Linked DNA regions of Homo sapiens. The protein of the gene in region 1 purifies or fractionates together with the protein of each later gene. This does not show direct contact. Each region holds a gene or a part of one and is shown on either strand. Other genes may lie near its edges.

What was found.
Region 2: the proteins of ZNF517 (region 1) and LIPC purify together in Homo sapiens (affinity purification with mass spectrometry; one large-scale study listed by BioGRID and IntAct). This does not show direct contact.

What each region holds. Positions count from the first base shown.
Region 1 is NC_000008.11:144,797,462-144,801,857, forward strand, and holds the start of ZNF517 (zinc finger protein 517), read left to right. Parts: upstream 1-1,451; 5' UTR 1,452-1,476; exon of another isoform or gene 1,477-2,026; coding exon of another isoform or gene 2,027-2,042; intron 2,043-3,394; exon of another isoform or gene 3,395-3,511; intron 3,512-4,396. UniProt on the Homo sapiens protein: May be involved in transcriptional regulation.
Region 2 is NC_000015.10:58,550,468-58,554,276, reverse strand, and holds part of LIPC (hepatic triacylglycerol lipase precursor), read right to left. Parts: intron 1-3,809. UniProt on the Homo sapiens protein: Catalyzes the hydrolysis of triglycerides and phospholipids present in circulating plasma lipoproteins, including chylomicrons, intermediate density lipoproteins (IDL), low density lipoproteins (LDL) of large size and high density lipoproteins (HDL), releasing free fatty acids (FFA) and smaller lipoprotein particles.

The DNA.
Region 1 (4,396 bases):
GAGTGTGTGTGAAACCATCTCTAAAGTGTGTGTGGAGGTGAGTGGGAACTCGGGAAACACCGAGTTTCATATATTGAACTGTTCCTCCCACTTGCATGATGGTTTCACAACACAGTTTAGTGGCTAAAGAATATGTGACTTGGAGCCAGGTCTGTGGGTTGGATCCCAGCTCTGTTACTTAAGAGATGAGACCTTGGCCAGGCACAGTGGCTCACGCCTGTAATCCCAGCACTTTGGGAGGTCGAGGCTGGCAGATCATCTGAGGTCGGGAGTTAGAGACCAGCCTGACCAACATGGAGTAACCCCCTCCTTACTAAAAATACAAAATTAGCCGGGCGTGGTGGCGCATGCCTGTAATCCCAGCTGCTCGGGAGGCTGAGGCAGGAGAATCACCTGAACCTGGGAAGTGGAGATAATGTTGAGCCAAGATGGCACCATTGCACTCCAGCCTGGGCAACAACAGTGAAACTCCGTCTCAAAAAAAGAGACTAGACCTTGGCAAATAACAGGGACACTATGCTCTCCTCATTTTAGTATGGGAACAGTAGTATTTTGATAGGATTACCATGAGGATTAAATTAGTAAATACAAAGAGCATACAAATGTTTACAGAAGTCACAGGGCTGTTAGAAGTCAGAATGGCCACCCTTGGGTGCAGACAGGAGAGGTGGTCTGAGAGTGATCAGAGGGAGCAGCAAAGACACTTCAAGATCCCAGAAACTGGCCCGGTGCGGTAGCTCACGCCTGTAATCCCAGCACTTTGGGAGGCCGAGGCGGGCGGGTCACCTGAGATCAGGAGTCCGAGATCAGCCCGGGCAACATGGTTAAACCCCGTCTCTACTAAAAATACAAAAATTAGTCGGGCGTGGTGGTGGGAACCTGTAGTCCCAGCTACTCCGGAGGCTCAGGTAGGAGAATCGCTTGAACCTGAGAGGCGGAGGTTGCAGTGAGCCCAGATCACACCATTGCACTCCAGCCTGGGGAACAAGAGCGAGACTCAGGCTCAAAAAAAAAAAAAAAAGTCATACTAAACAATGTCATAAATTTATATGAGACCGACCCTGGCCGGACGCCCCCGCTCCGCCCTTCCTGCGGGTCCGGGAGTCGATCCCCCACCGTGCTCCCCAACCCCCGCAGGCCACCCGGGGGCAGAGAGTGGGCGCAAGGGGTGAACGTTCGCTGCCTCCGATCCCGGGGGAAACGGAGCGCCGAGAACGTCGACGCCCTTCCGCGCCCGTCGGGCCTGGGACTGATACCCGGTCTGGCCCGGAACCCCCCAGGCGCGCCCCTAGCTGGGGCCCTGGCGACCGCCGCGCCGCAGGGGCTAGAAGCCGTCGAGACGCGAGCGCCATCGAGGCGCGCGGTCCTCCAGGCCTCCCAGAGCGGCGCAGCGGCCGTTTCCGGGGGCGGGGAAGGAACCGGAGCCTGAGAGCCGGGCGCCGTGCGCTCCTCCCCGCGCTGTCTCGGCGGCCCAGGGTGAGTCGGCCGCGGCCGCGGGGCGGGGACTGGGAGGGGCGCGGTCCTCCGAGCCCGGCCTGGTGGAGGCTGTAGCCCCCGCAGTGGGCGCGCGGAGCTCGGCAGGGAGCGGACCCGCAGCCGTCACTGTCGCCTCCGCTCGCCTTGGGTTCCGAACCCTTATCGGGGCGAAGGGCCCTGCGCCCCGGTCCATGCTGGCTGTGGTCGGGGGCGTGCGGCCGGGCCCCCGAGACCCGCTCCGCCGAGCCGGACGGTTGCGCAGAGATGAGGCTGCAGGCGGGGAGGCCTGGCGAGGTGGGGCTGCTCCGGGGAGGACCAGGCTCTGCCCCTCGCTTCCGTCCGATGGCGGGCTCTTCCCGGCAGCCTCGCTCCCCGGCGGACGCCGTTTCCCGCAGCGTTCATTTACCCTGCGCAGTTTTGCCCCCTCCCCGGGTTGGGGCATTTATTGGACCAACAGTCATTTCGTAAATAGCTGTTGGGTATTTAACTGTGAGCGTTCCGGTGCTGGGGACCCCGCAGTGAGCGAACAGCCCGCCTCGCCTCCAGGAGCATGAATTGTAATAGAGGTGAGGCGTTAGTGTAACAGGCAATAACGCAGCAAAATAACTTCTGGTTTTGACAAGGGCCTCGCACAGAATAAACCAAGGAAATAAAATTGTGAGAGTTAGGGGGTTAGGGTAGCCTTGGCGGTCAGGGGAGGCTCTGTAAGGAGTTAACATTTGGCCGTGCGCAATGGCTCACGCCTGTAATCCCAGCACTTTGGGAGGCCGAGGCGGGCGGATCACGAGGTCAGGAGATCGAGACCATCCTGGCTAACACGGTGAAACCCTGTCTCTACTAAAAATACAAAAAATTAGCCGGGCGTGGTGGCGGGCGCCTGTAGTCCCAGCTACTCGGGAGGCTGAGGCAGGAGAATGGCGTGAACCCGGGAGGCGGAGCTTGCAGTGAGCCGAGATCGCGCCACTGGTCTCCAGGCTGGGCAACAGAGGGAGACTCTGTCGCAAACAACAGCAACAACAAAAAAGAGTTAACATTTGAACTGAAACCTGCTGGAGGAGAGAAGCAGCCACAGATCCCTGAGGAGAAACTCCCAGGCGGGGGAACAGAGAGAAGGCTGGCATGGCTGCGGCGTAGTGAGCCGGGTGCCCCAGGTCCCCGAGGAACAGGGCTTATTCTGCGTATGGAAGGAGGTGACCCCTCCTAGTCTTCCAGACCCCAGTTAAATGAGTTCCCCCAGTAACATTTCTTGGTGGTCCTTCATCTAAAATTAGCACCCTCCTCCCCTTGACATTTTCTGTCTCAGCAACAGCTTGATCTGTTGTCATCATATCACTGCTCCATTATTTTTAGCTCAGTGCTGTTTAATCTGATTGAAGGTTTACTTCCTAATTCCGAAGATAGAACTAAAAGCAGGTTTTTTTCCCCTCTAACCAGGTAGCCCCTCCCTGAGGACATGCACTCCCTAGACATGAGCAAACACAAAGCAGCAGTAACTTACCGCTCCTAGTCCAAGTCCTACCCTAGTCCTGGGTTGCAGTTCTTACCAGAGTGGAGGGTGGTATGTGTTGAGGGGTCGGGGATCAAGTCTTCTGGCAGCCTCATACCCTGAGATACTCTGGTTGCCTTGTTGGGGTGAGGACAACACGTGTGGCCATCGCAGTGGCCCAGGTGGGTCCTGCCACAGACTGCCCTGGACAGACAGTGAGTGGGGGCTGGGTGGGGGTGGTGTGGCCCTGCTCTTCCATGCGTTTGCAGTCTGTGCCCTCTGTGCAGGGGTGATTCACGAATCTGTCTGATCCACCCCCATCGCCCTTCGTACCCTAACATGTCAAAAGGGCTCTGCTGCCAAATGTCACTTCATAGCATTGTGACCAAGCAGCCCTCCTGCCTCTAAACGCACTCTTTATTTTTATTTGAGAGAGAACCTCACTCTGTCGCCCAGGCTGGAGTGCAGCGGGGCACACTTGGCTCACTGCAACCTCTGTCTACTCAAGCAGTTCTCCTGCCTCAGCCTCCCAAGTAGCTGGGATTACAGGTGCGTACCAGCACACTCGGCTAATTTTTGTATTTTTCGTAGAGAAGGGTTTCACCATGTTGGCCAGGCTGGTCACGAACTCCTGACTTCAAATGATCCGCCCTCATCGGCCTCCTAAAGTGCTGGAATTACAGGCATGAGTCACTGTGCCTGGCCTCTAAACACATGCTTTTTGTTAACTGATGCCTAAAGGGAAACATCTCTTTACAAAGTGGCAGCTACTTAGACGGCTCCAGCTCTACAGAAATGGATAGCCCCGGAGACCTTCACCCAAACACAAGAGCTCAAGTGTCTGTTGAAGGGAAGAGTGAGGAGAACAGGGCCTCATGCCTACTCTGTATACGTCTGCTTAGAGCAAAATTATTGTTTTGTTTTGTTTGAGACAGAGTCTCACTCTGTCGCCCAGGCTGGAGTTGGTGGCATGATCTCGGTTCACTGCAACCTCTGCCTCCTGGGCTTAAGGGATCCTCCCAGGATGACCAAGGTTGCACCATTGCACTCCCGCCTGGGCAACAAGAGCGAGTTGTCGGAGTCTCACTCTGTCACCCAGGCTGGAGTGCGGTGGCGCGATCTCAGCTCACTGCAAGCTCCGCCTCCCAGGTTCACGCCATTCTCCTGCCTCAGCCTCCCTAGTAGCTGAGACTACAGGTGCCTGCCACCATGCCCGGCTAATTTTTTGTATTTTTAGTGGAGATGGGGTTTCACCGTGTTAGCCAGGATGGTCTCTGTCTCCACCGCACCTGGCCAAAAAAGTGTTAAATTAGAAAAATAGAAAGAGGCCGGGTGTGGTGGCTCACACCTGTAATCCCAGCACTTTGGGAGACCGAGGCAAGAGATCACTTGGGTCCAGGAGTTCAAGACCAGCCTGGGCAACATAGTAAGACC
Region 2 (3,809 bases), on another chromosome or scaffold:
GGGAAACTCCATTTACAGCAGAAATCTGAGGCCTCCGGAGAGTCTCCTCACTAGGAAAAATCCTGGATTGTAACCCTGTGTGGACCCTGCTGGTGCCATTTAAAAAAGAAAAAACTTACATTTTCTTTTCACAAGATCAGGTTATTGAATTTATGAAAAGAGAATATATTTCTTTCTATTTTTTGCCTCCCAGAAACAATGATTCTGAATCATTAGATGTTGGCTCTGGGAGATATTATGACTCTCTTTGCAAACATCAAAGAGGGCTTTTTTTTTTTCCCCCTCCGTGTATGGATTTCTCTCATGGAGATGGTAGGAATGAGACCTCTTGTGTTTTCTCCAAGCCCAGAGGGCTTGTTCCTAGACCCGAAATGCCTCTAACTCAGAGGGAAGCTGAAGATCATAGGATTGAGGGGCCCAGGATGGTGTTGTCCAGGGTGTTGCTGCCCAAAGAAGGCAGCCAGTGCCGGCAAGGCTGAATGAAAGTGAATTAACTCAGAGCAGGCGCGAGTGAAGAAGAAAAAGGGAAAGTGATTTTGTTAGCCTTTGTATGTAACACCTGTATGTGTCGGTATTTTCGTGGCCACATTTTGGTTTAACAGTACAGTCCCATTTAAGTGATGCCCTGATGTCACGAGACTGGATGCTTGCCCCTTTCTTTTTAAAATTAAATTGAATTTTTTTGAAACAGGGTCTCACTCTGTCACCCAGGCTAGAGTGCAGTGGCACCATCATGTCTCACTGCAGCCTTGACCTTCTAGGCTCAAGCAACCCTCCTGCAGTCTCCCAAGTAGCTGGGACTACAGACATGCACCACTCTACCTGGCTAATTTTTAATTCTTTTGTAGAGATGGCGTCTTGCTTTGTTGCCCGAGCTGGTTTGGAACGCCTGGGCTCAAGAGATCCTCCCACCTTGGCCTCCCAGAGTGTTGGGACTTCAGGTGTGAGCCACCGTGCCTGGCCAATGCCTGCCCCTTCTGTGGGGGTCTGTTGCTGCCTGCGAGCGGTGGAGATGGGGGAGTGTGTGTGTGCGGCCAGGACTGTTGTGCTGACTGGCGTCCTGTTGCCAGCTCTTTGTGCTGTGGGTGGAATAAGGGCCCTCAACGGATAGACAGAGCCCAGGGTTTGAGTCCTCTCTGATGCCTGCTTCCTTGTGATCTGGAGACCACATAGCCTTTCTGGGGCTCGATTTCCTCATCTGTGAATGCAGGTTAGGAACTTTCTTGTAGTGTCGCTGTAAAAATGTGATAAGATGGCGATGAAAAAATGCCTGCCTTCCAGAAGGTGTTAATCGGGTGTCATCTACTTCCTTCCTCCACACTGAACTGACCGGGGCAGGTTTTGAGACCCACCTGCAGGTCCCGTGCTAGTGGTTCATCCCCATGTCTATTCACACCTCTTCCTTGGTGCCCACATAGGTTTTGTCATTAGGTCAAGGTCACATAAGTGGTTGGCAGCAAGGCCAAGATTCTTGACACTCCTTATCCCAACCCCAAGCCTGTGCTGTCTACGACACCCCCTGCTTCTTCTGGAACTCTCCCTGAAGTCAGTGGAAACCTTCCAAAGAAGTAGCTGAGAGAAGCCAAAAACAGACCGACTGCCCGAGTCACAGCTTGGCTCGTCATCTCGCCGACCAGCAAGGAAGGGTGCTCTCATGGCTGCGGCGAGCAGCAGAAGCAAGTGCCCCTCACCCCCGACCCAGGGAGCCTGGAGTGCAGGGCCGTGGGTGAGGGGGCGGGGGAGGGGGAAGGGCAGCACGGGGAAGACAGGAGAAGAGTGGAGGAGATATGGAAGAGGGAGTGTGGAAGGAGGGCAGAGAGGAGGAGGCGGGACATGCAGCTGGAATGCCGCAGGAGGGAGAGGCACTCAGTCGAGGGCCTTGGTCCTACGCCGAGGCCAAGTGCAGTAAAAGGAGCAAAGGCTGGGATTCAATGCGATGCTTCCTGCTCACAAATTGTGTGACTTTGCCCTGACCGTGTCTCTGTGTGTGCGTGTGTCTCTCCCTGTCTGGGGGTTGCTGTGAGGATCAAATGGGAAATGAGCTAACGTGTACAACACATCCAGCCCAGTGCCCGGGCAGAGTGCCCCCCGAGGGCCCCTTCCCTCCTCTCCACCCGGTTACCTCATCTGACTGCTCTGAGGATGAAATGAGAGGAGGCACTGGCGAAACAGGATTTACTCCGTACAGATCCGTTTCCCTCCCCCTCCCTTAAAAACAGGCTCCCAAACTGGTAAAGGTTCCTTGTGAGAGAGTGAGAATGGAAGTGGGCGATAAATTGCCTCGTTTCACTCGGCGACTGTTTCCCAATTCTCTCTTGCTACTGCTGTACTCTCGCAGTGTTTACCCGAGTTCTGGTGTACAGTTGTAGAAAATAGATCCTTTGATGGTTTTGTCGAAATATCTTGGGAGCCAGAGGAATTCAGGCCAAGTTAGTCATCCTTTGTGAAACTACAATCAGGAGGCGATGTTTATCTTGCCCAACCAGACCCTGCACTAAAATACATTGTACAATTAGATGTTTTTGAAAAATGGGGATTGTGGTTTCTCTGTAGGCCGGGGTTGGGCAAGTCTGCTCTTTTAAGAGTGTAATATGTATTCATCAAAATGCTGGAGGTGGCTGGTGGAATAGGCTTTGGGGGCCCAAGTCAGTTATGATCACGGTTGTGATGGGCAGGGAGTGGTGTAGCTGTGGTGGCCTAGATTAAAATCTTCATCCCAGCATCACCAGTAGAACTCTCCGCGGCGATGGAAATGTTTTATTTCTGTGTTCTCTGATGCAGCAGCCACGTATTTGAGCACTTGAAAGGTGGCTTGTGTAACTGACAAACTGAATTTTTGGTTCCATTTAATTTAAAGTAACTTAGATTTGGATTTAAATAGCCACATATGGTTTGTGGCTACCACATTGGATAACATAACATTATATAGATAGCAGTATCCCATGAGCAGCTGCTTCAAACAGGCGAGTCTCGCATGAGTGCACTTTCCAGCCATGCCCAGGGTGGCTTGATGTGACCACAGAGACGTTACTTTCCACTAGCAAGTGAAACTGGGTTGAGCGGGTGAGGACTTTGCTCACTGGAGGGGCTGCAGGAGAACTGGGGAGAATTTGTGGGGGAGCAGAAAAGGAGAGGGTATGGGCTGGGCACAGTAGCTCACACCTGTAATTCCAGCACTTTGGGAGGCAGAGGCGGGTGGATCACTTGAGGTCAGGAGTTCGAGACCAGCCTGGCCAACGTGGCGAAACCCCGTCTCTACTAAAAATACAAAAATTAGCTGGGCGTGGTGGTGCACGCTGGTAATCCCAGCTACTTAGGAGGCTGAGGCAGGAGAATCACTTGAACCCTGCAGGTGGAGGTTGCAGTGAGCCAAGATCACGCCACTGCACTCCAGCCTGGGCGACAGAGTGAGACTTGGTCTCAAAAAAAAAAAAAAAAAAAAAAAAAAAAAGTAAGAAAGAAAAGGAGAGGGTGTGGTACAAGCCACAGCTCGGCACTGGAACCTCCCTCCAGCCTGGGGCTTTCGGTTCCTGACCAGTTTCAGTCAGTCCTGCCCTTAACCTCCTCCTCACTAGATGTCCCAGGAGCAAGATAAGTAGTCGGTAATAAAGAGACACAAATGTGGTCTCCAAGGAACTCATCGTGGGTTAGTCTCCACCGAGCCCCCTGAGGGTAGGACTGTGTTTGAAGAATATACGGATGGATGAGTACGTTGGTTTTGGTAGCTGGTGGGTGAGATAATGATGCCCTAATGCAATTCTTTGGTCTTCCTTAATAACAAAGGGATCCTTGTGAGTTCACATCAGCAG